Linked DNA regions of Homo sapiens. The protein of the gene in region 6 purifies or fractionates together with the protein of the main gene of each other region. This does not show direct contact. Each region holds a gene or a part of one and is shown on either strand. Other genes may lie near its edges. The genes, in order: OSBPL11, ARHGAP29, COA7, PML, UNK and ACOT8.

Region 1 (3,500 bases), on a different chromosome or scaffold from region 6:
CTTTGGGAAGCCAAGGTGGGCGGATCACTTGAGGTCAGGAGTTCGAGGCCAGCCTGGCCAACATTTTTAGTAAAGAAACAACTTTTTTTAGTAAAGAAACCTGTCTTGACTAAAAGTACAAAAATAAGCTGGGTGTGGTGGTGTGTGCCTGTAGTCCCAGCTACTTGGGAGGCTGAGACAGGAAAATCACTTGAACCCGGGAGGCAGAGGTTGCAGTGAGACAAGATTGCGCCACTGCACTCTAGCCTGGGCCACAGAGAGAGACTCCGTCTCAAAAAAAAAAAGAAAGTTACAATGGTTGAACCACCTTGTGAATATACTAAAAACCACAGGATTATACGTATATACTTTAAAAGGGTGAATTTTACGGTATATGAATAGTATCTCAATTTTAAAAGGCAAAAAATAAAAAATATTCCTTCCTCATTTTTGTATATTAATATTGTATATAAATCTACATACCTTTCCAATAGCTTCAGTATGATGCTGTGTACATATCTGAAGTCTGCTAACCCAGTGCTGTCGCTCTTTTGCATCTGTAGCTGTTAAAAGAATGTAAAAATTATTTTATATTTATTTATTCTGGAACACAATTAATTGCCTACAGTATGAAGATCAGATCACTGAAAAGCAGATACTGGTCTTACTCTCACTAGAGCAAACTTCCCTGACTGGAGGGAGGCAGGAAAGAGGCCAAAGCACCAACGTTGTTAGGGAACACAGTAGCTGGATGTAGTTACTTCATTAAAAGGAGAAATTACATGCAGTGAGGTGAGGATGAGAGACTGACATGTTGCAACTCATAAAAATAGGTTCTTATTTAAAGAAATAACCCCTTAATTATTTGATGTATAATCAATACTTTCAGATCTGCAGGAGCACGCTCACTTAGGATTACCATTATACTTTGTGTATTCATTAAATAAAAAACTTCTACACAAATTAAATTTATCTTAACAGAAGTTATACGTTATTTTAATGAATGACATTATAATAAATCCCAATAATGTACATTAGTTACTGAAAACTGCAAAAAGGGCACGTAAACTAAACCAAGTAAAGGGGTGAAATACATAAAAAATATCATTTAAAGTCTATGTTTCTAGATTTTCAGTAATCAGAGTTTCACCTACACCGTTTTTCAGAGGGGCCAGTCCTAAACAAACATACATTGTCCCACTTGAAAACAGTTACTTATTACAAAAGATTTCATAAATTCTCAAAGCAGTTCCAAGGTTCAGAATATTGTATTTACATCACTGATGACAGCAGTTTCTATTTCCAAAGCCCATATGAAAGCATGTAAGACACCAACTTCTCAAAAAAAGAGGAAAATCACAGTATTAATTCTCATATTTTGGTCATACCTCTGAGTTTATATTGTTCCCCACTGGCAGCGTTTACAGTGAAGGTGTGAGAATCCTCATCACTGGGTGATATTACAGCTCCTGCAAGCTGCAAAGTTCCTCTAGGTTTCTGATTTCTAGACTGTTCATTCACAAAGTACTCCAACAGCCCAGCTTCATTGTTTAAAACAAAAAACCTGTAATGATTTTTTAAAATCCATAATTTGTAAACATTTTCCCTCAGCAAACTAAAGCAAAGCAAACTTCAATCACTTACACATTTCAGGGTTTTGCTCTTAAAAATAAAATTTAAAAGCATTTCAAGAGGTACCTGGAAACACTACACTGAATTTTCCAGCAGGGAAGATTACTAAAAATCGAATGAGTTAGGCCAGGCGCAGTGGCTCACGCCTCTAATCCCAGCACTTTGGGAGGCAGAGGCGAGCGGATCACCTGAGGTCAGGAGTTCGAGATCAGCCTGGCCAACATGGTGAAACCCCATCTCTACTAAAAATACAAAATTAGCCAGGTGTGGTGGTGCATGCCTGTAATCCCAGCTACTCGGGAGGCTGAGGCAGGAAAATCGCTTGAATCTGGGAGGCAGCGGTTGCACTGCACTAAGATCGAGCCACTGCACTCCAGCCTGGGCAAAAAGAGCAAAACTCCGTCTCAAAAAAAAAAAAAAAAAAAAAAAAAAATTGAATGAGTTTAATAAAAGATATAATAAACCCTTCAGCTGAGGGAGAGGCATTTATTAAGAGGCCTATCAGTTAATGCACAAAAGGAAGCAAAGATACCATATCCTTTCAGAGACAGATTTTTCCCCAGAATTCATTAACAGAGGGTAAACTGCCAAAGGACAAATGGTAGTGAAAATTTTTCTTTAAAATTCACCGGAAATAAATCAAAATATGAGCTCTGAGGTTAAGGCAAGATATACTAGGCAAGATATGCATTGTGATTTAAGAATTAGTGAAATATACAACAAGAATAACAGGGTAAAAAAGATTTTGTGAATGAATCATTAAATAAGTCAAAACTAAAGATTACTTCTCCTGTTTAAAAATGAAAAAGCTGCAATTGGAGATGCTGAAACATAAGGACCTTGAAACTAAATGATGAAATGCTGATACACTCTGGAAAAGAATTTGATGAAATACTAATACACTTTGGAAAAAAAAATTCTGATTTGGTTCTAGATTAACTACTTTCAAAAATACATTTCAGAAATTCCAATTTAAGTAGTGTAATAATTTTTTTTTTTTTTGAGATGGAGTCGTGCTCTGTTGCCCAGGCTGGAGTGCAGTGGCACCACCTTGACTCACTGCAACCTCTGCCTCCCAGGTTCAAGCGATTCTCATGCCTCAGCTCCCAAGTACCTGGGATTACAGGCGCCCACCACCATGCCCAGCTAATTTTTGTATTTTTCGTAGAGATGGAGTTTTGCCATGTTGGCCAGACTGATCTCAAACTCCTGAACTCAGGCGATCCTCCCGCCTCGGCCTCCCAAAGTGCTTGGATTACAGGTGTGAGTCACCTCATCTGGCCCCTTTTTAAAAAAGGAACGCTAGGCCAGACACGGTGGCACACACCTGTAATCCCAGCACTTTGGGAGGCCAAGGCGGGTGGACTGCCTGAGCTTAGGAGTTTGAGACCAGGCTGGGCAACACGGTGAAACCCCGTCTCTACTAAAATACAAAAAACTAGCTGGGCGAGGTGGCGTGCACCTGTAATCCCAGCTACTTGGGAGGCTGAGACAGAAGAATCACATGAACCCTGGAGGCAGAGGTTGCGGTGAGCTGAGATTGCACCACTACACTGCAGCCTAGGTGACAGAGTGAGACTCCATCTCAAAAAAAAAAAAAAAAAAAAAAAAGTAACTCTAAAAAGGGCTGGATGAGTTGAGATTGCTTGAATCCAGGAGTTCGAGACCAGTCTGGCCAACATGGCAAAACCCTGTCTTTACAAAAAAAAATACAGAAATTAGATGGGTGTGGTGGTGCATGCCTGTAGCTCCAGCTACTTAGGAGGCTGGGGCAGGAGGATGATTTCAGCCCGAGGTGGAGGTTACAGTGAGCTGAGATCATGCCACTATACTCCAGCCTGGGCAACAGAGCAAGACCCTGTCTCAAAAATAATTAATTAATTAATTAA
Region 2 (3,500 bases), on a different chromosome or scaffold from region 6:
GTACCATGCCTTGCGCTAGGCCTACATCATCTTAATTCTTAAAACAGTCTTTTGAAAGTAGTGTTCTTATCCCTCTTTTACAGAAGGACTTACAAAGTTAGTGAACTTAAAATATGTAGCCCAGTGTCATACAGGTAATAATGGAGCTGGACTTCAGACCCAGGTCTCCTCGATCAGTTTTGCATTGAATCCCTGTATACCCTGTATTGCCCAATTTAAATCGATTAAATTTGTTTAAGATCTCAAAATTTTGGTAAATGATGTTTTCCAGCACAATGCAATAAAGTAGCACGAGTCACATGTAGTTCTTTAAATTTAATTATAATAGTTAAATAAAATTAAAAATTCACTTCCACCTCCTAGTCACACTAGCCACTTATTAAATGTTCAAATAGCTACATGGAGCTATTAGCTACTTTATTGGACAGTACAGATATAAAACACTTCCATCATCATAGAAAGTTTTGTGCTAAGCTATGTAATAGACTTTCAGAGACATGCTTATCATATAGTAAAATGATAAAAGATGACTGGAAGAGGCAGATCTGTGTCTTCTGTTTAGATAGCAATATGTTTGCATTGCTTCTCTAACTTCTTGACTAATATTTTTGTTATCTGCAAAATTTAAAGTTTTGAATGGATTCATTAATGTTAACTAATGCTGTTAGTAACAACAGTGAGGTTGTTCATTCTTGGATCTTGGGAACTCCTGTTGTAAAAAGCTATGAAATTCTTATGAAGTGTTCTGGCACTTAAACAGACTTCTAAGGCCTTTAAGTTTTAAATACTTGAAATTCTTTAGCAGGAATTATGTCAGAGTAACAAATTGGGGCAAAAAAATTCTGAAGCAAAGATTTGTGTTCTTCTCTAATTTTAAATTTATCTTTTTCCATGTTGTAAGTCGTTTGAAAATGTTTCTGTGGAATCAGTGGACTCATCCAGTGAAAAAGGTAATGCTCAAGGTGTTTATAACTTTTCACAAACTTCTTGTAGTTACTTTCTATGAATGTCCTGGATTAATCTCTTCTTGCTTAGTAACCTAGTGTATTCATTTTTAATGCAAAATGATATATAAAGTTTTACATATAGAGCTTAAGGGAAATAACCTGCTAGAGTAGATAGATAATATGAGATATAGACTGATCAAGAATTGTGTAAAGCTTTTAACTTGATGGATAATAGAAATATATTTTAAGATAAAAATACATTATAGTTTGAAACCATTTTAAGTTTAAACTCTGGCCTTTTAATTGTAAATTTGTCACTTGTATTTTTTTTAAAAACCAGTTTTTATTGACTAGTATCTTAGGATCTCAGTGCTTCTTTGTTTGGAGTTATGATGTGATCACATTTAACATATACTTACCTTGATATTTTTGTTTTCAGGAAATTTTTCCCCTTTAGAACTAGACAACGTGCTGTTAAAGAACACTGACTCTATCGAGCTGGCTTTGTCATATGCTAAAACTTGGTCAAAATATACTAAGAACATAGTTTCATGGGTTGAAAAAAAGCTTAACTTGGGTGAGTTGCCTTTTAAAGCATCTGATTTAGAGTATAATAATTAAGTTGTTTCTAACTCATTTTTTACAGATTATGAGTAATAGAATTCCAAATTAGTACCTGTTTCATTATAATGAATAAAACCATTATCCAGAAAAGACTCTTCTTACACTAGATGGAATTAGTGAGTATTTACTGTGGACCAACTACTAGACCTAGGGACACAAAGACAAATAGAATACTGTCTCTGCCTTCAAAGAAGTCATACTCTAGTGGGTAAGAGGAAATGCAGTCAGATAATATGGTCAGGAGATAACAGCAACAATAGATGTATGAGTAGAAGGCAATGGAAACAGAGAAGAAACATTTTAATAGCTAATATTTCCTCAGTGTTTTACAGTTATCAAAATGTTTTCGTAGTCATTATCTTATTTACTTCTTACAAAAACTCTGAGAAGTAGGCAAGACAAGAATTGTTTTTCCTATATTACAGCTGAGAGAGACAAGACAGGAGATTTCTTAAGGTCATATAGCAGATTTGCTTAAAGTCATATAGCATAACTGGAAGAATATAGAATCTACCCAAAGCCTATGCTCTTTCTACTGTATTATTTGCTTATAATAGAGAATGCTAATCAGAATCACCTGAATAGTCTTGTAGAGGGTCAGTACACAAGCCTAGGTCCTATCCTTCAGAGAGGTGAAATGGAGGCAAATATATTCTGAAAGAGTTTCCCAGTTGATTCTGATGAGCACTCACAATTAAGAAGTGCTGCATTAAGAGCTGTACATGGTGGCTTATGCCTGTAATCCCAGCTATTCCTGAGGCTGAGGCTGGAAGATCACTTGAGCCTGGAAGATCACTTGAGCCTGGGAGTTCGAGACCAGCCTCGGCAACGTAGTGAGACCATGTCTCTTTTTAAAAAAAAAAAAAAAAGGAAGAAAGAAGTATTGCTGTATTATATCTTGATACACACTAGTATTTGTGATCACTTCTTAATTGTGGAATTACTACAAGTAATTTTAGAGTATACAGGGGGAAAAATAAATTGATTTTACCTTCTGATACCCTCTTTGAACTTTTCAGAATTGGAGTCCACTAGAAATATGGTCAAGTTGGCAGAGGCAACTAGAACTAACATTGGAATTCAGGTAAGTGTTCTGTGAACTTCGGGGGTTCTATAATAAGAAACTACTCATGAACTCCCAATAATTTGCAAAATCAGAATATTTCAGTTAATATAGGAAAGCACTTAAATGCTGATCTTTTTATTGACAAAATTATTTTAAGTTTAGATGGATGTCCATTATGAAAAAATCTAGGAAATACGCTTTTTTTTTCGTCTTAAGACAGGGTCTCACTCTGTAACCCAGGCTGGAGTGCAGTGGCGTGATCTCAGCTCACTGCAACCTCTGTCCCCCGAGGCTCAAGCGATCCTCCCACCGCAGCCTCCTGATGACCTGGGACTATAGGTGCCCACCATGCCCTGGCTAATTTTTGCATGTTTTTGTAGAGATGGGGTTTCACCATGTTGCCTAGGCTGGTCTCAAACTCCTGAGCTCAAGTAATCCACCCACCTTGGCCTCCCAGAGTATTGGGATTATAGGCATGAGTCACTATTCCCAGCCAGAAATTTACAATTTTATACAAATACTGATTGTCTTGATAGCTACTACTTTTGCTAACCAGTTTTATGATTAATTATAATTAATTTTCTTCTATATTTTTCTCATAGTCATGTTTTTGACTAGTTATTTTTCTGGGGGCAAAAGTCTAAACTTAGTTTCCCTTTTTGAAGAAGGGTAGTGATGTGTTTGGAATTCTAGTGCCATTTCTATTGTAAAATTTACTTTTCAATTTTAAATTTTAGGAGTTCATGCCACTGCAGTCTCTGTTTACTAATGCTCTTCTTAATGATATAGAAAGCAGTCACCTTTTACAACAAACAATTGCAGCTCTCCAGGCTAACAAATTTGTGCAGGTAAAGATTAATTTA
Region 3 (3,500 bases), on a different chromosome or scaffold from region 6:
CCTTAGTGTAGGCTACATCTAATAAATATGTGATAGAAATGAAAAGTGTGTGACTTCCAAAGATAGGTCATAGAAGACACTGTGGATTCTATCTTGTTGTCTCCTTTAAATTACTCACTCTGGGGGAACCCAGACGCCATGTCATGAGGACACTCAAGCAGCCCATGGAGCGAACCATGTCATGACGATCTGAGCTCTCCCAATAACAGCTGGTAAGGAACTAGAGGCCTCTGCTACCAGCCATCAGAGTGAGTCATCTTAGAATTGGAAACTCCAACTTCAGTCAAGCCTTCCAATGTCTCCAGCCCTGGCTCCCTGGCCAATGTCTTGACTATAACCTCATGAGATACCCTGAGGTACCCCCACTAAACCACTCCCAAATTCTTGACCCACAGAAACTATTGAGGTGAACAAAAATAACTATTTTGTTATTTAGCCATAGATAATGTAAACACTATGCCAGTGATAACTACAATTAGAGTACAAGGAGAAAAGACAGAAGGAAGACAATAATTACTGACCCCTTACTCTGTGCCAAGCACATGCTGATGCCTTTTCCTATGCTGTCCTACTTAATCCTCACCACCCTACAAAGCAAGTACTATTTCCCTCCAATTTACAGGTGATGTAACTGAGGCACAGAGTCGAAGTGATTGGCTCAAGGTCCCACTACTTGCCAATAGCATTCCCTAAGGTTTACCTAACTTGAAAGGCTGTGTTCTTCCCCCCATCACTCTGCTGAACTCCTACCTCTCCATCTTCCTACAATGCACTTTCCCAATGCCTGCGAGACCCTTCTGCAAGAGCTTATCATGGGGCTCAGGTGTGAGGCCAGCACTGCTATCAATGACAAGGACCCAAAAGGCAGGCCCTCCTTACCTTTTCCAGTCACATAGTAGGCCCCCAGTTTGTAGCAGCTATCACTGTGCTGGTTCTCTTCACAGTTAAACTTCAACACCTTGGCAGCCTCATCAAAATTCTTCCGGATCCCTTCCAAATAGTCCACCAGCCGATAGCAACCTGCGAGAAGAGGGCAAGGGTTGTTCTTCATGTCTGGGGCTGCTGCTCGCAGTGGGGACTTGGGGGTAGGGGGTGCCCAGGTGTGGCAGGCCAGGTGATGTCTTTTAAGACAGCCCCTGTCCTCCTGATGTGTGGCAAGTTGGCCTTACCACAAAGAATGTAGGTGGTGTTTAGCCATTCCTACAAATGGCATTGTCTCCCCACAGCCATGGACTGAGCAATGCATGGCTTGGGGAGACCTCAGCCCCTGCATTGGCTCTACCACTCACCAGCCCTTCTGCTCCCTGTCAGCCACGCCCAAGTATCCACTGACTTCCATGATTGAAACTTTGCTAGTTTTGGAATCTCTCATGAAGTTAAATGGTAAAAACAGTGAAAACCTAAAAGGCTCATAGGCTAGTCTTTGTAGCAGCAAGAAAAGGGTGCTGGGCCAGGCTCGGTAGCTCATGCCTGTAATCCCAGCACTTGGGGAGGCTGAGGCAGGAGGATCACTTGAGGTCTGGAGTTCGAGACCAGCCTGGACAGGGTAAAACCCTGTCTCTACTAAAAATGCAAAAAAATTAGCCAGGAGTGGAAAAATATAAAAAAATTAGCCAGGTGTGGTGGCGCACACCTGTAATCCCAGCTACCTGGGAGGCTAAGGCAGGAGAATCGCTTGAACCCAGGGGGCGGAGGTTGCGGCGGGCCGAGATCACGCCACTGCACTCCAGCCTGGGTGACAGAACGAGACTCTGTCTTAAAAAAAAAAAAAAAAAGAAAGAAAGAAAAAGAAAAGGGTGCTGTAATGACTATAGCTTACTCCTCAGCCAGGGTAGGAACATGAAAGCCAAAGAGAAAGAGTAGAGGCGGCAGCTTCTAATGAAAATAGGCTCTACTTCCTTGGCAGTCTCCCAGTCCCAGTAAACCTCTTTCCTTAATCTCTCTCCCCTCTTCTTTACCCCCAGTGACAACATATATCTCTCATTCATTTTCGTTCAACAAATATTTGAGCATCTCTATGCATCTATGTACCAGACATGGTTCTAGATGCTGAGAATATACTCATTTGCCCTCCTAAAATTTACATTCTAGGGGAGGAAATACAATAAATAAATAAATGAACAAAATTTATTCAAACAGTAATAAATGTTATAACAACTCAGAAACAGGAAGTGAAATACTGCATGTCCTCACTTATAAGTGGGAGCTAAATACTGTGTACACATGGACACAGGGAGTGTGGAATAATAGACACTGGAGATTGGGAAGGGTGGGAGGATGGTGAGGAATAAAAAATTACCTAACAGGTACAAGTGCATTATTTGGGTGATGGTTGGTTACATTAAAAGCCCAGACTTCCCCAGCAATTTGGGAGGCCGAGGCAGGCAGATCACCTGAGGTCGGGAGTTCTAGACCAGCCTGACCAACATTGAGAAACCTCGTCTCTACTAAAAATACGAAAATATTAGCCGGGCATGGTGGCGCATGCCTATAATCCCAGCTACTCGGGAGGCTGAGGCAGAGAATCACTTCAACTCGGGAGGCGGAGACTGCGGTGAGCCGAGATAGCGCCATTGCGCTCCAGCCTGGGCAACAAGAGCAAAACTCCATCTCGAAAAAAAAAAAAAAAAAAAAGCCCAGACTTCACAACCAGGCAATATATCCATGTAACAAAACTGCACTTGTACCCCTTAAATTTATACAAATAAATACATAAATGCTATGACTGAAGTAAAACAGGATAACTGTTTGCTGTCAACTTTGGGTGAATGGCTAACAAAGACTGAGCCACTGGGGAGGGGCTCACCAAGGACTGTGACCTCAATAACAAGAAAGCACTAGCTATTTAAAGACAATGAAATGGGAGTGGGGCAGGGATTTGGAAAAAATTTAAAAATAAAAAATAAAAAATGAAATTAAAAGACAATAAAATGGGCAGGGGCACAAAGTCCTGGCACAAGGAACAGTAAATACAAAGACCTGAAAGAATAAGTTTGGCACGAATAAGGTACAACATGGCTGAACCAAGGAGGAGGGTCAGGAAATGAAGAAGGAAGGTAGGGACCAGACCATAGGCCTCGTGAAACATAGGATGGAGTTATGATTTTTTCCAACTGAAACAGTAAACCACTGGAGGGTTTCAAGAAAATAAGTAATATGATTCAGGCCAGGTGTGGTGGCTCATGCCTGTAATCCCAGCACTTTGGGAGGCCAAGGCGGGTAGATCACTCGAGGTCAGGAGTTCTAGACCAGCCTGGCTAACATGGTGAAATCCCGTCTCTACTAAAAATACAAAAATTAGCCAGGCTTGGTGGCGCACGCTTGTAATTCCAGCTACTTGGGAGGCTGAGGCAGGAGAATCACTTGAACCCGGGAGGCAGAGGTTGCAGTGAGCTGATATCGTGCCACTGTACTCAAGCCTGGGCAACAGAGCAAGACTCAGCCTCAGGGAAAAAAAAAAAAAAAAAAAAAGCCAGGCGTGGTGGAACACGCCTGTAATC
Region 4 (3,500 bases), on a different chromosome or scaffold from region 6:
CATTTCCACTCGGAAAAGCACTTTCTAAGTCAGAGCAGTCCAGAGTTGGGAGCAGCTGCCTCTAGAATGAGCAAGCTTCCTGTCCCTGGAGATGTGTACATGAAAGCTGGACAGCCACAGGTCAGGGGTGCTGCAGAAGGAATGCCAGCATTAGATGGGACATGGATACCTTGAACCCTGAGACAGTCTGCTTTGTTACATGTATGGTGGCCCTGGAATCACACCAGCAGAACCCGGGCAACTGGGATCGAAATCTGACTCCTGGCACCATTCCCCGTTCCTTTCCAAGAACCATCTGTGGGGAAAGAGCAGGGGAAGGCCCACCTATTCTGACTCCAAGAGAAGGCTCCCACATTGGGGGTAGGGTGTAGGAGGGGAGAGGACATCTGCACATCCCTCAGGACTGCTGACCCTATATCTAACCATACATCTGACAACCATAGTTTCTCATGGCTGGAAGGCACTAATATGCCATCTAATGCTGGAATTCCCTCTGCAGCAGCCCTGATCTGTGGCCGACTGTCTACCCCACATCTAACCCCCACTGAACCTGGCTCATGGCCCATCAAGAGCAACTTTGGCATTTAGGAGCCTAGAGTCAGAGCCAGCTAGCCAGCCAACCCTTCTTTAATGTCTTCCTTTACTTCCTCTCACTGAAATTTCCAGTCCAGCCACTTGCTGTCCCTCACTCAGACGCTCTCCCTGCACACACAGGGACAGCAGGACTCACAACCTGCCTGACCTGCTGGGCCCCACCACCACCCCTTCAGACCTCAAACCCATCTCACCAGGTCAACGTCAATAGGGTCCCTGGGAGTGCTGGCAGCCTCTGGGCTGGCTTTCTTGGATACAGCTGCATCTGTAGAACACAAAGAAGGTCACAGGCAGGTCAAGGACATGCTGGTAAGGGACATCCTGACCTGGGACAGTGATAGAGAGGAGGTCCCTGTTGCTTTTCCAGGATACCTATTTTCCAGGGCATCCCAAAGCACTGGACAACTCCCTGGAGGGGCAGCTGGAAGGAGAGCTCTCTCGAATGCAGTGGGCAGGAACCCAGCCAGAAGGGAAAAGGAGGTGGCATTAGAGTGCTTGCTTTTGGCTCCAAACCCCAAGTGTACCTCTCTCCATCTCTGAGCCAACAGCAAGGCTAAGTGTGCGCAATCATAAAGCCATCACTACCGGCTCACTGACTCTCTACATATAGTGAGAGCTCCATGATCTTCCTTATCTGCAGCCTGGTTTTTATTAAATCTAAATCTCTTATGCTTCAGAATAAAATAACCCTTCTCTCTGCTATTGCCCAGTTATAACACCCAAGGCAAGCTGTGTAAACTCTGTGGGGTCATTTCCTTAATATGGGTGACATTCACTACCTAGGTGGAGAAGGCACAGGTCCAGGCCCTCTAAGATTATCCTTCATGACCCATGTCCAGCTCCAGGAGAAGTAAATAAGCTCTTTGTCACTGGCACCCTACCCAGGTGCCTTCAGATTCCATAGCCTCCCTCCCCTTTCCCAGTAAGGGCATCCTATACTAGCTGCTCAGAGCTCACATTCCAGCTTGGAGATTTAGTCAAAGACTCCTGGAGACTCTCTGGCACACTCCCCCTACCCCTTATTTTGAAAGCCCCCCTGTTCCAGCTAATACACAGCTGCTACATCTCCCGGATTTGGATTGCAGAGCTGAGCACTGTCTCATTCTCCAGCTACGTGAAGTGGCTCTGGCTCCTTGAGATCAGAAACTAGTCTGTGTCTCCTTACCTCTCAAGCGTCCAACACTAGGCAGGGCGCGCAAAGGTTGGCAGACAGCAGGTCATCCTGCAGACAAGGGATCTCCTCCACTGAGCCACTGTATGGTTTTGGGTAAGCATCCAACCATCCCCAGGAGGTTTTCTTAGCCCCCTTCTACCGTAACCCCAGGTCCCAATTGACTTCTCTGTTCCGAGACACCGGTGGCTTAAGAGAACCTCCTGAAGTGCTTGGTCCCTCTGGCGCCAAAATGATACTGGGTCTGATTCTCAGCTTTGCAGTTTTTCAACTTTCACGTGTTCCCCATGAGTCATCGCTAGGTCAATCCACAGAGTCTTGTAAATTAGTAAAATGTGTCCCCTCTGGGTGGCTGCAGCCCTTTGTCAGGGCCTCATCTCCCCCTTATCCTGTGCCCTGGAACCTAAGACCTTACCAACCCCCAAAGACTGAATAAACACCCAGTTTTCTTTTCTGTCAAATGGAGATGATCTCTTCTGACTCGCCTTCCCTAGGGTGCAGCAGAGGCACAGGCCGCCCAGGAAGGTGGCGTGCGTGCTTACCTTTCCCCTGGGTGATGCAAGAGCTGAGGTCCTGCAGGCGCACCTTGAACTCGTCGAAGCCATCGGTGCGCACGGCAGCTTGCAGGCTCTGGGGCTCCTCCTGGCGCAGGCGGCAGAGCGCCTGGCGCAGGAAACCGTGCATGTCCAGCACCTCCTGGTCCGAGGCGTAGCACTTCATCCTCTGCACCAGCGCGCTGCCCGTGCGGATGCGCTGCAGCACAGCATCCAGGCGGCCCAGCCGACTGGCCATCTCCTCGTAGTCGCGCTGGTACCGCGCGTCCACAGCCTCCAGCAGCTCGCGCTCCTGAGCCCGCACGTGAGCTACCACCTGGCGCACGCGCTCGCGGATCAGCTCCTCGGTCTCGGCACGCGCGCGGCCCAGCTGGCCGACGGCCGCGTGCATCTGCGCGTGAACCGCGCCAAAGGCACTATCCTGCTCCTGCAGCGCCTGCGTCATGGCGTCCAGCTCCTCCTGTCGCTGCTGGATCTCTGCGCTGATGTCGCACTTGAGCTCACTGTGGCTGCTGTCAAGGAGCGCGCACGAGCAGCACAGCGGCTTGGAACATCCTCGGCAGTAGATGCTGTGGACACACAAGGTTGGCCTGGGTTAGGACTCTCCTGACTTTTTCCTCTTAAAACGTTCGTTATTAAATTCCTCTTCCAAAAATACCAGACTTTGAATCATGGCATGTTTCTAGGTTTCTGCTTTTCCTAATTCAGTGTTTGTGGTTATGGTGATAGTATCCAAACTACCAATAACACATGAGTATAAAAAGTTACTACAGTAACAATTTCAACATCCGGGAAACAATACAAAGATATACGAAACGACAATCATCTCTTTCCACCACTTCTGAATTTCCCTTCCCCACCGAGGAAGCACCAGGTGAGCATCGTGGGGTGCACCCTTCCACACATCTCTCCACTGAAACCGCCTTACACAAATGCCAGACTGGGCTGCTGCTTGCAGGATGGTACAGACTTGACACATGTCAGCCATGCCACTTAACCTTTGCAAGAGCCCCTTGAGTGAGAATTGTCGTTATACATATTTCCCAGAGGAAGAAACAGAACATGTTAAATGATTGACCTAGATATCTACAATAATTTTGGGGGCTGATGTTTGTTCAAAAAAAAAGAAAGAAAGAAATCGGCCGGGCGCGGTGGCTCACGCCTGTAATCCCAGCACTTTG
Region 5 (3,500 bases), on a different chromosome or scaffold from region 6:
ACCTGCTATACACCAGCCACTGAGTGCCCAGAGACCCGCCCACCCCCACTGATCCCGGGGCTGAGACCCTTGAGTTGTAACATCAGGGGACAAGACCCTTGTCCGAGGCAGGGACCCTGGATGGGGATGTGATTTCTCCTGGAAGTATCAAAGAAGATTCAGAAAGGAGAGGCATTTGGGTTGGACATGACTGGCAGACGGTGTCAGAAGTCAGGAGTCAGGATTGGCATAGGAAGCAGCTGAAGGAAGGGCACAGGGGCTTGGGAGAATACGGACCCAGCGTAGCATGGGCGTGAAGATGCAGCGTGGGCAGTAGACGAGGTGGTCAGGGTCAGATAGTCCCTCGGGAGGTCACATCCCACTCTTCTCTGTCCCTAGAGTCTGCTTTGGATGACCTGGACCTGAATGAGTTTGGCGTGGCCGCCCTGGAGAAGACTTTCGATAACAGCACAGTGCCCCACCCAGGAAGCATCACCATCGGTACTGGGTGTGGGTGGGCAGGGCAGCCTGGAGGACTCCTCGGGTTCCTGCCTGGCTCAGGCCCCTTGCTCTGTGTGGCCCGCCTGGCTTCCGCTGCCCTCACCCAGCCCGTCCTCCCCGGGCCTCTCTTGCAGGCGGCAGCTTGCTGCAGAGCTCTGCACCCGTGAACATCCCCGGCTCCTTGGGCAGCTCTGCCTCCTTCCACTCAGCATCCCCGTCCCCTCCCGTCAGCCTCTCCTCGCATTTCCTGCAGCAGCCCCAGGGCCACCTGAGTCAGTCGGAAAACACATTTTTGGGAACCTCAGCATCACATGGATCTTTGGGTAAGAGAGGGAGTGGTTCACTCAGGAGAACTGGGGCAGGAACCTGCGCCTTTAGGAGGTGCCTCTGGCCACCCCATCTACGGCATATCAGCTAGGCTGGGGGTTAGGGCAGAGGCCTTGGGCGAGGAGGCAGAGTCAGATTCCTGTCTGTGTGACCCTGGACAAGTGATTGAGCCTCTCTGCCTTAGTTTCCTCTGCTGTGAAATGGGTATAACGGCAGCATCCACCTCCTAACGTTGTGAGCATTGAATGGAGTAATGGGGCTGAAGTGCTAGGCACGAGGCCAGTGCAGGTGAGAGCAGGGGTCTCAGTTGCCAGGGCTGGGCCTGGTCTCTTTCACAGCATGGTTCTGTTCTGCCCAGTCACCCCAGGCTCCGAGAGGCTGGCTCGCACCAGCCAGGTTCACAGGGGACCAAGGGAGAAGCCAGACAGGTTAACCCCTGGCTTCGGGTGCCCTTCCTGCCGGGCAGAGGCTCCAGGGAGGCCCAGGGCTGGCCCAGAAGGCTGTTTGCCCACAGAATTAGAATGGTATGGAATGGGGGTTTCTGAGGGCACTTCAAGGTTTAGTGGCTAGAAGAATGGCACAGAGGCCTGTGCCACTGCGGGCCGGCTGTGCATCTCCTCTTGTGTGTGTCAGGGGATGTTCCTGAGGGCGGGATGGGAAGCACATGGCACCACCGCTCTCACTCTCCCCCAGCAGCTGCAGACACCAGGAGCTCCCTCCCCGAGAGTGCCAGCATTTTGCTCGGGCCCAGGGAATGAGCCCTTCAGAGTTCTGATTGGGTTTGGTGGCTTCCCTTATCTCATTCCTGATCCCAGAACAGCACATGGATTTCTCAGCGCCTTCCAGTTTGAAGAGGCTGTTCTCTGTTACGTTGATTCTGTCAGCTTTAGGTGCTTGGTGTTGCATTTTTCGGACTTGCCCCATATTCGGATAGGATCTGTTTTTTTTTTTTCGAGTAGGGTCTCAGTCTGTCACCCAGGCTGGAGTGCAGTGCAGTGGCATGATCCTAGCTCACTGCAGCCTGGAACTCCTGAGCTCAGGTAATCCTTCCACATCAGCCTCCTGAGTAGCTGGGACCACAGGCGTGCACCACCATGCCCAGCTTCTGGTGGCGTCTAGACTTAGCTCCACTTACTGGCCACACACTCCTTCCTGCACCATGTGACTATTGAGCACAGGTGTATTGATACAGGTGTAAGTGCAACAGTCCCTGCTGTCCAGCAGCTGTGGCCAGTGTGGGAAGCAGAGGTGCCCAGCCATTGGGATCCTCCTGAGAATCATAGAGGGGCCTACCTGGACAGCAGAGTCAGGAGAGCTTCTCCAAGGGAGGAGGAGAGATGGGTGGGACAGGAGAGCTTGCTGCAGGGCTGGTCTCATGTGGGTGGGGTGACCCTGAGGTCTTCCTCTGGGATGGGGCAGATGGCTCAGACAGTGCATGCCACAGGGTCTCCGCACAGGACCATGTCCCTCCTCTGTGGGTGCACTTGTGTGTCTCAGAGAGCAAAGCGTCTTAAATCTGGTTCTGGAACATCCTGGTTGGATTAGTGGGAAAGGGAGCAAGGAAGAAGTCACCAGAAAGTACATATGGGCAGAGTGAGGCCAGAGGTGGATATGGGTCCTTCTCGGAAGCCCGGGGCTGCCCTGGGGGCCAGAGCAGGGGGACCTGATGTTAGTAAACATCTGTTGAGCGAGTGAGCAGAGGGCAGCTGGGTTGGCGGTGGGTGGGAGGCTGTGCACGCAGCATAGTTGACTGGAAAGCATAGGCCTTTGGAACCACACTCCCTGTCTGTGTCCTGGCCCTACCACTTACAATTTGTGTGATTCTTGGTAAAACATTTTATCCAGGGTCCTTGTCTGTAAAACAAGGGGGATGGCCCCAAGGCTCCCTGAGCTCTTCCTGCCCCAGCTCTGCCATCCGATGAGGCTCTGGCCTGTCTTTTCCCCTTTATCTCTTCCTGGGCCTCACATCAGGCTGCAAAAAGGCCCTAGCCTAAAAGTGAAGCCACAATCATAAATTGCCACTATCGGGGGCCTGGGACTGCTCTCACATGCAGTACTTCCTGAGTCCCCTGAGTTACCCGGTGAGGCCAGTGTGGGAGTCCCATTTCCCACATGAGGGTGCTGAGCCTCGGAAGTTGAGTGGCACCAACTAGCAGGTGTCACTCAAGGTTAGGTCTGACTCCGCCCACGCCACCTGCACCTTCACAGCCTTCCTGTCCCTGCAAAATTCTCTGGCCTGACACTAGCTGGAGCCTTGCACACCCATCCAGTGGACAGCCAGTCCCTGGAACCTCTGAGGCAGGGCTGGCCAGGGCCTGGGCCCAAAGCCCTCCGGAGCTGATGTTCTTCCCCTCCTTGGGGCAGGTCTGAACGGGATGAACAGCAGCATCTGGGAGCATTTTGCCTCTGGAAGCTTCTCCCCGGGCACTTCCCCCGCTTTCCTATCAGGGCCAGGGGCTGCCGAGCTGGCCCGACTTCGGCAAGAGCTGGATGAAGCCAACAGCACCATCAAGCAGTGGGAGGAGTCCTGGAAGCAGGCCAAGCAGGTACCAGGCCCCGTGCCTGCCGGCCTTCCCCAGTGCCAGGTGGCATCCAGCCCAAGACCTTCCTTCACAGAGTGGGCGTGGGGTGGGGGAAAGCGGGGGCTGGAAGAACAGAGCAGAAACTCAGTTTTGTTCGCTCGCTCTCCCCCT
Region 6 (3,500 bases):
TAAAAATATAAAAAAATTAGCCAGGTGTGGTGGTGGGTGCCTGTAGTCCCAGCTACTCGGGAGGCTGAGGCAGGAGAATGGTGTGAACCCGGAAGGCGGAGCTTGCAGTGAGCCAAGATCGTGCCACTGCACTCCAGCCTGGGCGAGCACTCCAGCCTGGGCAACAGAGCGAGACTCTGTCTCAAAAACAAAAAACCTATGTGTGGTGGCTCATGCCTATAATCCCCGCACATTGGGAGGCCAATGCGGAGAATTGTTGGAACCCAGGAATTCAAGACCAGCCAGGGCAATAAATCGAGACCTTGTCTCTACAAAAAAATAAATAAAAGGAAAATAAAAGCAAAACCTATGCTAAAAAACAAACAAAAAAAACCCTCACTGTTTTCTTTCCTTCCCTGTTACCCCCAGAGCAGATGCCCTCATGTGTTCTGCGTAGATCCCCAGCTGAGAAGAGTTTGTGGACCTTTACAGTATGTGATTTGTATTAAGAAAACCATGGGGTTTCCCCCTTCATTTTGTAAATATGAAAGTTATCCCTGTAATGGTAAATACACTTTTTCATACTGTCCCGTGTCTCTTACTCCTCATCCCTGAGGAGTATTGATTGGCCCCCCTCTTCTCGGCCCCCAGTCACTGCTATAAAGTATTTGAATACTTACCTTGGGCTCAGCCAGGTTCTTATCTTTATGCTAGTTGGGAGTAAATATGTGCTTTGTTTCTTTAATTTGTTTGTAAGTACCAGCCTTTTGATATTGTAATCCTTCCAGCCTAGTGAAATACCTGGCTGTTTTCTTTTGTGTGGGTGGGGGCATTACTTGAACTCTGAATCTCTTCATCCTGTGATGGAAGAATTCAATGAGTCTTTGCCAGTAAAGTATCTAGTGCAGGGCTTGGCATAATCTAGTTTTCCATAAATATTATTAGTTTTTGATGATTAACTTATGGGAATAATTAAAATTTGCATGATACAGAGCATAGTTGTGTGCATTATCTTGTTTAGTCTTCATAAGTAAACATGGGTGGCAGGCATTCCTGCCATCATTCTTACCTAAGGAAACTGGGACCTGAAGAGGTTTGGAACCAGCTCCCACAGTGCCCAAGGAGGCAGAGCCAGGATTTGAACCTGGTTTATGTGTCTTTGAGTGCCAAACTCTTTCCTGCTTCTTTGCTTCGCTCTTGGGCAATAATTCTAAACAATGAGAGAGCTGCCAGGGTACCCATCCCAGGTTCTGGGGAAAAGATCCTCTTTCTTGGAAAGTCTTCATCCAGGAGCAGCGTGAAATGAGCTGTGTCCAAGCCACCATTTCAAAATAAATAATTATTTGGCCGGGCGTGGTGGCTCATGCCTGTAATCCTAGCACTTTGGGAAGCCGAGGCGGGCGGATCACCTGAGCTCAGGAGTTCGAGACCAGCCTGGGCAACATGGTGAAACCCAGTCTCTACTAAAATACTAAAAATTAGCCAGGCATGGCGGCATGTGCCTGTAGTCCCAGCTACTCAGGAGGCTGAGGTAGGAGAATTGCTTGAACTCAGGAGGCGGAGGTTGCAGTGAGCTGAGATCATGCTACTGTACTCCAGCCTGGGCGACAGAGCGAGACTCTTGTCTCCATCAAAAATAAATAAATAAATAAAAATAATTATTTGTGCCCTTGCTTGTGTCTTGAAAGGCTGCAAGATAGCTAAAATAATTGGTAGTTATTATGGGAATATTAAAAGTCAAAGGACATTAGGCCAGTAGTAATGGGATTTGGGAGAAGCGATCATGTCAAAAAATTTGGCTAAGCCATATTGTTGCAGTTTCATACAAGGTTTAGTTCTGAGCTTCCTGGCTGCAAGGCAAAAAGGGGAGAGCTCTTATCTGTTTGTGGTGTGACTCTGCCAGCTATATCAGATATTAAAACCAATGCTGTTTTTTGGCTGGGCATGTGGCTTATGCCTGTAATCCCAGGACTTTGGGAGGCCGAGGCGGGCAGATCGGCTGAGGTCAAGAGTTCGAGACCAGCCTGGACAATGTGGCGAAACTCCATCTCTACTAAAAAAAAAAAACACACACAAAAATTAGCCAGGTGTGGTGGTGCACACCTGTAGTCCTAGCTACTCAGGAGGCTGAGTCAGGAGAATCGCTTGAACCCTGGAGGTGGAGGTTGCAGTGAGCTGAGATCGTGCTACTGTACTCCAGCCTGGGTGACAGAGCAAGACTCCATCTAAAAAAAAAAAGGAAAATTAGCTGGGCGTGGTGACCTTAGCCCGTGATCCCAGCTACTCGGGAGGCTGAGGCTGAGGCTGAGGCAAGGAGAATTGCTTGAACCCGGCGGCTGGAGGTCGCAGTGAGCTAAAACTGCGCCACTGCACTCCCACCTGGGCGACAGATCGAGACTCCATCTCAAAAAAACAAAACAAAAAAGAGATGTTTCAATTACATTTTAAAAATAAAAGATGTTATGGGGGAGGGGGAGGGTTGGTCCTTGGCCATTTATCAAATCAGTTCTTTTTCTAAAAGCCCAGGAAAGAATGTGAATTAGTTGGGTTTTTGTTTTGTTTTTAGTTTTTCTCTACAGAGGTAAATTTAGAGCTTGAAGAATTCAGAACAAGGTCAGCAAACATTCTAGAAAGGGCCAGATAGTAAACATTTTAGGTTTTGCCAGTGAAAGCAACTATAGACAATATGTAAACAAATTAGCATGACTTTATTACAAAAAAATTGTATTTTAAGGCAACAGTTTCCTCATCTGTACAATGGGGGTAAGAGTGGCTCTACATAGTTATTGTGAGACCAACATGAGAAAACATACCCTCCTGTCCAATGCTGTCAGGCACCCTGCATCACTCCATAATCATTAACTCCCTTCAATATGCCTCAGGGCCTACCTGCTCTGTTCCAATAACAATTTTCAAGAATAGGGCTGGAACTCATTCACACTGAAAGGTAGACCAGAGTACTGAAGTTTCTGTGATCCTCCTCAGGAATCTGCACTTTAGCTTACCTGCAGACCAAGGATTGGATTAGAGGTTTTTTTTTGTTTTTTCCCCCCAAGTTTGGTGGTAGGGAGGAAGACTTCATTCCCAGTGTCTGAAAGCAGACTGCACAAGTAACTTTGTCTAGTGTCTGGACTCTTGGTAAGCCCTTCTCAAATGCCTTTAACCTTGAGGAGCTCGCACTCTGATAGAAGTGCTGCTGGTGGCAGTGCCTGATAACAGAGAGCTGAGCAAGCCAGTTGACCTCAGACAGTGATGTTTATTGCTGTTGATTGAGCCCTGGTGCCTGGTTGACTCCCCATTTGGATCAGAGTGAAGGAAGCAACACTTCTCTAGACCTGCTTCTTTCATCTGAAGGTTGAAAGTCATCCCCAAGATGTCTCATGGCCCAGATGTCAGGGTTCCTCAAGGTCAGCCTGACTCAGACAAAGTGAGAACTTCAGGGAAACCAGGGAAGTTCTCTTCCTCTCCAAATCTTCCCTCACCTGCTTGTTGTTGGCTGCCTTATCCCTGGCCAGTGCCTT

The links.
Region 1: the proteins of ACOT8 (region 6) and OSBPL11 purify together in Homo sapiens (co-immunoprecipitation; one large-scale study listed by IntAct). This does not show direct contact.
Region 2: the proteins of ACOT8 (region 6) and ARHGAP29 purify together in Homo sapiens (co-immunoprecipitation; one large-scale study listed by IntAct). This does not show direct contact.
Region 3: the proteins of ACOT8 (region 6) and COA7 purify together in Homo sapiens (co-immunoprecipitation; 2 studies listed by BioGRID and IntAct, with this or other methods). This does not show direct contact.
Region 4: the proteins of ACOT8 (region 6) and PML purify together in Homo sapiens (affinity purification with mass spectrometry; 4 studies listed by BioGRID and IntAct, with this or other methods). This does not show direct contact.
Region 5: the proteins of ACOT8 (region 6) and UNK purify together in Homo sapiens (co-immunoprecipitation; one large-scale study listed by IntAct). This does not show direct contact.

Annotation. Positions count from the first base shown.
Region 1 is NC_000003.12:125,578,498-125,581,997, forward strand, and holds part of OSBPL11 (oxysterol-binding protein-related protein 11), read right to left. Parts: intron 1,544-3,500; coding exon 1,368-1,543; intron 543-1,367; coding exon 463-542; intron 1-462. UniProt on the Homo sapiens protein: Plays a role in regulating ADIPOQ and FABP4 levels in differentiating adipocytes and is also involved in regulation of adipocyte triglyceride storage. Weakly binds 25-hydroxycholesterol. Interacts with OSBPL9 to function as lipid transfer proteins.
Region 2 is NC_000001.11:94,203,085-94,206,584, reverse strand, and holds part of ARHGAP29 (rho GTPase-activating protein 29), read left to right. Parts: intron 1-901; coding exon 902-950; intron 951-1,386; coding exon 1,387-1,524; intron 1,525-2,590; coding exon 2,591-2,655; intron 2,656-3,374; coding exon 3,375-3,485; intron 3,486-3,500. UniProt on the Homo sapiens protein: GTPase activator for the Rho-type GTPases by converting them to an inactive GDP-bound state. Has strong activity toward RHOA, and weaker activity toward RAC1 and CDC42. May act as a specific effector of RAP2A to regulate Rho.
Region 3 is NC_000001.11:52,691,848-52,695,347, forward strand, and holds part of COA7 (cytochrome c oxidase assembly factor 7), read right to left. Parts: intron 1,021-3,500; coding exon 880-1,020; intron 1-879. UniProt on the Homo sapiens protein: Required for assembly of mitochondrial respiratory chain complex I and complex IV.
Region 4 is NC_000015.10:74,022,216-74,025,715, reverse strand, and holds part of PML (protein PML), read right to left. Parts: intron 2,889-3,500; coding exon 2,308-2,888; intron 860-2,307; coding exon 789-859; intron 1-788.
Region 5 is NC_000017.11:75,819,306-75,822,805, forward strand, and holds part of UNK (RING finger protein unkempt homolog), read left to right. Parts: intron 1-378; coding exon 379-480; intron 481-614; coding exon 615-803; intron 804-3,171; coding exon 3,172-3,353; intron 3,354-3,500. UniProt on the Homo sapiens protein: Sequence-specific RNA-binding protein which plays an important role in the establishment and maintenance of the early morphology of cortical neurons during embryonic development.
Region 6 is NC_000020.11:45,850,893-45,854,392, reverse strand, and holds part of ACOT8 (acyl-coenzyme A thioesterase 8), read left to right. Parts: intron 1-439; exon of another isoform or gene 440-470; intron 471-3,500. UniProt on the Homo sapiens protein: Catalyzes the hydrolysis of acyl-CoAs into free fatty acids and coenzyme A (CoASH), regulating their respective intracellular levels. Displays no strong substrate specificity with respect to the carboxylic acid moiety of Acyl-CoAs.